2 linked regions of the Homo sapiens genome follow. The protein of the gene in region 1 purifies or fractionates together with the protein of each later gene. This does not show direct contact. Each region holds a gene or a part of one and is shown in the gene's direction. Other genes may lie near its edges. The genes, in order: SMYD4 and ECD.

Region 1 (3,820 bases):
TTCTCCTGCCTCAGCCTCCTGAGTAGCTGGGACTACAGGCACGTACCACCACACCCAGCTAATTTTTTGTGTTTTTAGTAGAGACGGGATTTCACCGTGTTAGTCAGGATGGTCTCGATCTCCTGACCTTGTGATCTGCCCGCCTCGGCCTCCCAAAGTACTGGGATTACAGGCGTGAGCCACCGCGCCCGGCCAAAATGAACAAAATTTTAAAGTAAACTATGGGCCTGAAAAGACCAAAAAAGAAAAAAATAATAAATGTTACAATTAGAGTAAAACTTTTTTTAAATTTTTATTTATTTTTCTTCAGACAGGGCCTGCTCTGTCACCCAGGCTGGAGTGCAGTGGTGCAATCCTGGCTCACTGCAGCCTCGCTCTCTAGGGCTCAACTGATCCTCCCACCTCAGCCTCCTGAGTAGCTGGGACTACAGGTGTGCACCACCACAGCTGGCTAATATTTTAATTTTTTTTTTTTAGAGACCAAATCTAGCTGTGTTGTCCAGGCTGGCCTTGAACTCCTGGGCTCAAGCAATTCTTCTGCGTGAGCCTCGGGATTTCAGGCAGGAGCCCTGGTGCCTGGCCTGCTTAAATATATAAAGTTTGGGGTAGTAACTAGGTCGCTTGTTCTGTTAACCAACCAAAGACCAGATAAACAAAAGCCCTTGGGCTCTAAAAGTCTTTGGGAAGTCACCTCAACAGGGGCTCTGGTTTCTATGTGAGAACATTATGAAACTATCTAGAACGCTCCCTACTTATCATCCCTTTTTTATTACTTCTTTATAAGTTCTTATCTTTGGCTATTTCGTGGTGTAGAGACACAGTCGTTAGGTTCCAGGACTCCAGTGGACTTTGTGTGCGTTCATCCACTTTGCTTCCTGGGGACTGGAGCTTGCCGTGAGTCATGTCCCATCTGATTTATATTGGATCTGGCTGTGGAGCCATGACTCACACGGGCTGCAGGCCTAGCTGCCCAGCTCATCTTCTGAGGAACAGAGGGCAAGGCCAGGGCTCATGTGCTGACACCTTTTTCCTTCTTTCCTCTTGCCCTTTCAGGACCTAAAGGGAGCATCGTTACCGACAGCAGGCAGGTGCGCCTTGCCACAGGCATCTTCCCTGTTATCAGCCTCCTGAACCACTCCTGTAGCCCCAACACCAGCGTGTCCTTCATTAGCACTGTCGCCACCATCCGGGCGTCACAGCGGATTAGAAAGGGGCAAGAGATTCTCCACTGCTATGGTGAGCCATCCCTCCGCACTGCCATCCTGCCCTTCTCCAACAGAAAAGGACGGGGACGCAAGTCAGCAAGCCACCAGGCATGTGACTTCACCTGTCTACTGTCTGCTTCCTGGAAGAGGCAGTGAACACTTAGGCCAAAAACAAGGAAGGGAGGATGGAAGGAATGGCCTTCGTGCTAGGGCCCTATTGCGGCTAAACTATGTCTCGCTGTTTAATCACTATAAACTTCCTATTCTGAAAATGGGCTAGGAACAACTTCTTGGCTTCTCTTTCTTCCTGTCTCAGCAACTTGGAAGCTTATTTTAGTATCCAGTTCCACAAATATTTGGGTAAAGGTTAGCTGTCACATGATAGGTAATTGTCCAGACCCTCTGCTAAGCTGAAGGTTTTTACGTAGTGTTTGACTCTCTCTTGCTTTCAATATTGGCTGACGGTGATCTCCCTCCAGGGCCTCACAAGAGCCGGATGGGGGTTGCCGAAAGGCAGCAGAAGCTGAGGTCTCAGTATTTCTTTGACTGCGCCTGTCCAGCTTGTCAAACTGAGGCACACAGGATGGCTGCAGGGCCCAGGTGGGAAGCATTCTGTTGCAACAGTTGCGGAGCGCCCATGCAGGTAATTCTCTCTTCTGTCTCCTCCACTTTTCCTGGAGGTCAGTTTTCCACCCCAAGGGTGATCAGTGTTTAGGAGGAAGCCATCAGGGACTTGTAAGTGCTGAGACCAGTAATATCACCTCCATTTTAGCCAGTCATCCCCATACACTAGTTCCCCTCCAGAGAAACCACAGGGAAAGGTTCAATTTAGTAATGTTTCCTTTATAAAGGACAGAAGATCCCATCTGAACTGGTTTGGGATCTGGGGGAGACTGGGAATTTATTTGCTGAAGTCAGTCATTGAAAAGTCCCAGGATAGGCTGGGCACAGTGACACATGCCTATTATCCCAGCACTTTGGGAGGCTGAGGTGGACAGATCACTTGGAGGCCAGGGGTTCAAGACCAGCCTGGGCAACATAGCAAGACCCTGTCTCTACCAAAAAAAATGTTATGAGAAAAATTCCAGGATAAGGCTGCTTAAGATACAGCTTGATCCAGGGGCTTTCTGTCCACCCCTCTCAGCTTCATTTTCTCTGTGTTAGCCCATCCTCAGATAGACTTCCCTCTTACGATGCAGGATGGCTGCCAGCAGCCCAGCCTGCGGATTTCCTGCCAAGGAGGATAAGAGCACATGCCACTCAAACAGCAGCCTGGGCAGAGATGTTACTGTGTTTCATTGACCTGAGAACTGTGGCTGGAGGAAAATTAGACATAGTTTTCCTCCAGCCATTTGGGCCAGAGGAAGGAGCCATATGTGAGCCACATGCCACACCCTCAGCTGTAGGGCAAGGGCCATGGGACTGAGGGTGAGAGGGATCCTTATGAGAAACTGGGTTGGGTTGCTGTTGCCAAATGAGAAAATAGATATCGGCCTTTGAAACACAGCAGATGTCCACCTCGGAGGTTTCCCCTCTGCCACAAGTGCCGTATTCTTCTTAGGGGAGTCATGAGTGAAAGGCAGAGCCGGTTGTGTTAGAAAGCTAAACTTGGAGACCCAAGGTCAAATGTAGGACGATCGCACCTAGCACCTTTTTCTATTAGTTTTTTTTTTTTTCTTTTTTTTTTTTGAGATGGGGTCTTGCCCTGTCATCCAGGCTGAAGTGAGTGCAGTGGCACGATCTCTGCTTACCACAGCCTCAACCTCCCAGACTCAAGCAATTCTCCTGCCTCAGCCTCCCCAGTAGCTGGGATTACAGGCATGCACCACCATGCCCAGCTAATCTTTGTATTTTTAGTAGAGACGAGTTGGCCATGTTCTCCATGTTGGCCAGGCTGGTCTCGATCTCCTGGCCTCAAGCGACCTACCTGCCTCGACCACCCAAAGCGCTGGGATTACAGGCGTGAGCCACCACGCCCAGCCTTTCTATTGGTTTTCTTTTTTTTTTTTTTTTCTTTTTCTTTTGTGAGACAGAGTCTCTCTCATGTCACCCAGGCTGGAGTGCAGTGGTGCAATCTCGGCTCACTGCAAGCTCCACCTCCCGGGTTCACGCCATTCTCCTGCCTCAGCCTCCCGAGTAGGTGAGACTACAGGCGCCCGCCACCACCATGCCCGGCTAATTTTTTGTATTTTTAGTAGAGACGGGGTTTCACCGTGTTAGCCAGGATGGTCTCGATCTCCTGACCTCATGGATCCACCCGCCTCGCCCTCCCAAAGTGCTGGGATTACAGGCGTGAGCCACCGCACCTGGCCTTCTATTGGTTTTCTGAGGACTTTTTCATAACTACTAGAAATGTTTGTCATCAAGGCCGGGCACGGTGGCTCACGCCTGTAATCCCAGCACTTTGGGAGGCTGAGGCGAGCGGATCATGAGGTCAGAAAATCGAGACCATCCTGGCTTACACGGTGAAACCCCGTCTCTACTAAAAAAAAAAAATAAATAACACACACAAAAATTTAGCCGGGCTTGGTGGTGGGCACCTGTAGTCCCAGCTACTCGGGAGACTGAGGCAGGAGAATGGCGTGAACCCGGGAGGCGGAGCTTGGAGTGAGCCG
Region 2 (3,820 bases), on another chromosome or scaffold:
CTCTGTCTCTCAGTTTAGAATTGTTTTTAGCTCCTACGTATAATATCATAGACTTTCCCCTAATTTATCAGAGATTGTAATAGTGAAAAATTATAAGCAACCAAAGTATCCATCAATAATGGATAAATGAATTGCAGTGTACTTATATGATAGCCTGCTATCTAGTAGTTAACCAGAGATGAACTATATTTACATATATCTGATTTAGGATTTTTCAACCTCAGTGCTACTGACATTTTGGATCTGATAATTTATTGTGAGGGACTGGCTTGCACTTCATAGGACATTTAACAGCATCCCTGGCCTCTATCCAGTAAATATCAATAGCACTTCTCCCTCATCCCCCAATCATGACAACCAAAAATGTCTCCAGACATTGCCAGAGGTACCTGGGCGGCAAAATCGTCCCTGGTTGGGAACCACTGATCTAAATGGGAACCACTGATCTAAATGAATAGATTTCAAAAACATAATGCAGTGAAAAAAAAAAAAAAAGCAAGTTATAAATACGTACAGTAATGGGTACCAAAAAAAAAAAAAAATAGAACGAATGAGTAAGACCTACTATTTGATAGTACAACAGGGTGACTATAGTCAATGATAACTTAATTATACATTTAACATAGAGTGTAATTGGATTGTTTGTAACTCGAAGGATAAATGCTTGAGAGGATGGATACCCCATTCTCCATGATGTACTTATTTCACATTACATGCCTGTATCAAAACATCTCATATACCCTATAAATATATACACCTACTATGTACCCACAAAAATTAAAAATGAAAATGAAAAAGAATAAAATATATACCGTGTGGATGTTACACATATAAAAATTTTAAATATACAAAATACTATACAGGCTGGGCGCAGTGGCTCACACCTGTAATGCCAGCATTTTGGGAGGCCAAGGCGGGTGGATCACGAGGTCAGGAGTTCAAGACCAGCCTGGCCAATATGGGAAACCCTGTCTCTACTAAAAATTCAAAAATTAGCTGGGCGTGTTGGCACGCCCCTGTAATCCCAGCTGCTCGGGAGGCTGAGGCAGGAGAATCGCATGAACCCTGGAGGTGGAGGTTGCAGTGAGCCGACATCGCACCACTGCACTCCAGCCTAGGTGACAGAGCAAGACTCCGTCTCAAAACAAAACAATACATTATTTATAGATACATATATATTCATTTATTCAACAAATATTTATTGAATGCCTCCTATGTGCCAGGCCCTATTCCAGGTACTGGGGATATAATAAATGAACCCAAAGTGTCCTTGTCCTTATAGAGCTTACATGCTAATGTAGGAGAAAGACCGCAAGCCATTATGTAATATTAGGGGGTGGTAAGTGCTATGAAGAAAAAGCAGTGTGTGGGGTAGAGGGGTAGAGACTGCTCTTCTAGATAGATTAGTCAAGGAAGGCCTTTCTAAGGAAGTTTTCTTTGAAAAGAGACCTGAATGAAGTGAAGGAGTGAGACATTCAGTTATTTAGGGGAATAACATTCCAGCAAAAGGACAGACAGCAAATACAAGAAATAGAAACAGAAATATATATACATACAGAGAGAGAGAAAAGTGCCGAAGTATACTTGAGAAAGCAGTCACCTCTGGGGAGCAAGACAATGGATTGGGATGGGTGGCAGTGGTCATCAAAGGAAACATTAGCTTTCTCTACAATTTTTTTTTTTTTTTTTTTTTTTGAGATGGAGTCTCTCTCTGTCACCAGGCTGGAGTGTAGTGGCACGATCTCAGCTCACCGCAGCCTCCACCTCCCGGGTTCAAGCGATGCCCCTGCCTCAGCCTCCTGAGTAGCTGGGACTACAGGCGCGTGCCATCATACCTGGCTAATCTTTTCGTATTTTAGCACAGACAGGGTTTCACCATGTTGGCCAGGATGGTCTCGATCTCCTGACCTGTGATCTGCCCTCCTCAGCCTCCCAAAGTGCTGGGATTACATCTCTACAATATTTTTAAGGTACATGATAAACCTATACACTTTTTTGTCAATTAAAAATAAACAAATAGGCCGGGCACAGTGGCTCACACCTGTAATCCCAGCACTTTGGGAGACCGAGATGGGTGAATCACCTGAGGTCAGGAGTTTGAGACCAACCTGGCCAACATGGTGAAACCCCATCTCTACTACAAATACAAAAAATTAGCCGGATGAGGTGGTGGGCACCTGTAATCCCAGCTACTCAAATTAAAAATAAATAAATAGCCAGGCACAGTGGCTAATGCCTGTAATCCCAGCTACTTGCTGAGATAGGAAGATTGCTTGATCCCAAGAGTCAAGGCTGCAGTGAGCTGTGATCATGCCACGCACTCTAGCCTAGGCGACAGAGTGAGACCCTGTCTTAGAAAAAGAAAAAAAAGAAACTATGCACAGAGATACTTATGTGTTGAGTGAGTGACATAATGGTGACATGATTTGTTACATAAATTGATGGCACCCTGTCTGAACTATTAAGAATGGATCAAATCAAGTTGTATAAAGGACTTGCTTTAATTGGATAAACATTTGCATACCTTGCAAAATCACGTAGGTGATGGGGAACTGTCTCTACTCTGTATTATTAATATGTAAACGTTACTAGGAGAGAGAATAAACCAAATAATCATAACAAAAGGCAAAATAAAAATCATTCTGGAATATCAAATGCTAAAGAGAGTCATAGTGAGAAGGTAATAAACTTTCACTAAGGTTGAAGCAGAGATGTTAAAAAAAGAAAGATAATGGAAGGCTTCAGGGAGGAGGTATTTGAGTTAAGTCTTAAAGAATGAGGATTTTTTTTCTTTTTATGGAGTCTCTTTTTTTTTTGAGACGGAGTCTTGCTCTGTGCCCAGGTTGGAGGTGCAGTGGCGCGATCCTGGCTTACTGCAAGCTCCACCTCCTGGGTTCACGCCATTCATCTGCCTCAGCCTCCTGAGTACCTGGGACAACAGGTACCCACCACCACGCCCAGCTAATTTTTTTTTTTTTTTTTTTTTTTAGTAGAGACGGGGTTTCACTGTGTTAGCCAGGATGGTCTCGATCTCCTGACCTCGTGATCCGCCCGCCTTGGCCTCCCAAAGTGCTGGGATTACAGGCGTGAGCCACCGCACCCGGCCAACGGAGTCTCGCTCTTGTCGCCCAGCCTGGAGTGCAATGGCACAATCCTGGCTCACTGCAACCTCCGCCTCCTGGGTAATACAGACTTTGCAAAAGTTAAAGAACTTCCCTGGGTTCTGGTTTTCTCATCTGTAAAACAGGATTATTACCTTCTATAATAGTAACAAAAGGACTCAATAAGAAAATGTATTTAAAGTGTTAGCATAGCATTTAATACATGCTAGATAAATTTTAATTGATGCTTTCCTTCTGGATCTTCTTTTCCTCGTATATAAAATATATATTATATGTATATTTTTATGTATTTTTAGTACGTGTTTTATATGTATATGTACTATTAACATAATACAACTGTATGTACATATATATACATATATAGAGAGAGACCCTGTCTCTGCATGTATGTATAGAAAGAATTATACGAGATCAGTGGCTTCATAATGATGTTCCATGGAGCCTGCTTCAGAGCCAAAAAGGAAGGCCAATTGTGTAGATCTCTGAGCTTCTATCCTCCAATTTATTTATTTTTATTTTATTTTATTTTATTTATTTATTGAGATGGAGTCTTGCTCAGTCGCCCATGCTGGGGCAGCTCACTGCAACCTCCACCTCCCGGGTTCAAGCAATTCTCCTGCCTCAGCCTCCCGAGTAGCTGGGATTACAGGCACGTGCCACAATGCCCAGCTAATTTTTGTATTTTTAGTAGAGACGGG

The links.
Region 2: the proteins of SMYD4 (region 1) and ECD purify together in Homo sapiens (affinity purification with mass spectrometry; one large-scale study listed by BioGRID and IntAct). This does not show direct contact.

The regions. Positions count from the first base shown.
Region 1 is NC_000017.11:1,784,838-1,788,657, reverse strand, and holds part of SMYD4 (protein-lysine N-methyltransferase SMYD4), read left to right. Parts: intron 1-1,053; coding exon 1,054-1,236; intron 1,237-1,684; coding exon 1,685-1,848; intron 1,849-3,820. UniProt on the Homo sapiens protein: Protein-lysine N-methyltransferase. Monomethylates PRMT5, modulating its transcriptional activity. May also act as a histone methyltransferase. Plays a critical role in cardiac development.
Region 2 is NC_000010.11:73,140,508-73,144,327, reverse strand, and holds part of ECD (protein ecdysoneless homolog), read left to right. Parts: intron 1-2,842; coding exon of another isoform or gene 2,843-2,941; intron 2,942-3,820. UniProt on the Homo sapiens protein: Regulator of p53/TP53 stability and function. Inhibits MDM2-mediated degradation of p53/TP53 possibly by cooperating in part with TXNIP. May be involved transcriptional regulation. In vitro has intrinsic transactivation activity enhanced by EP300.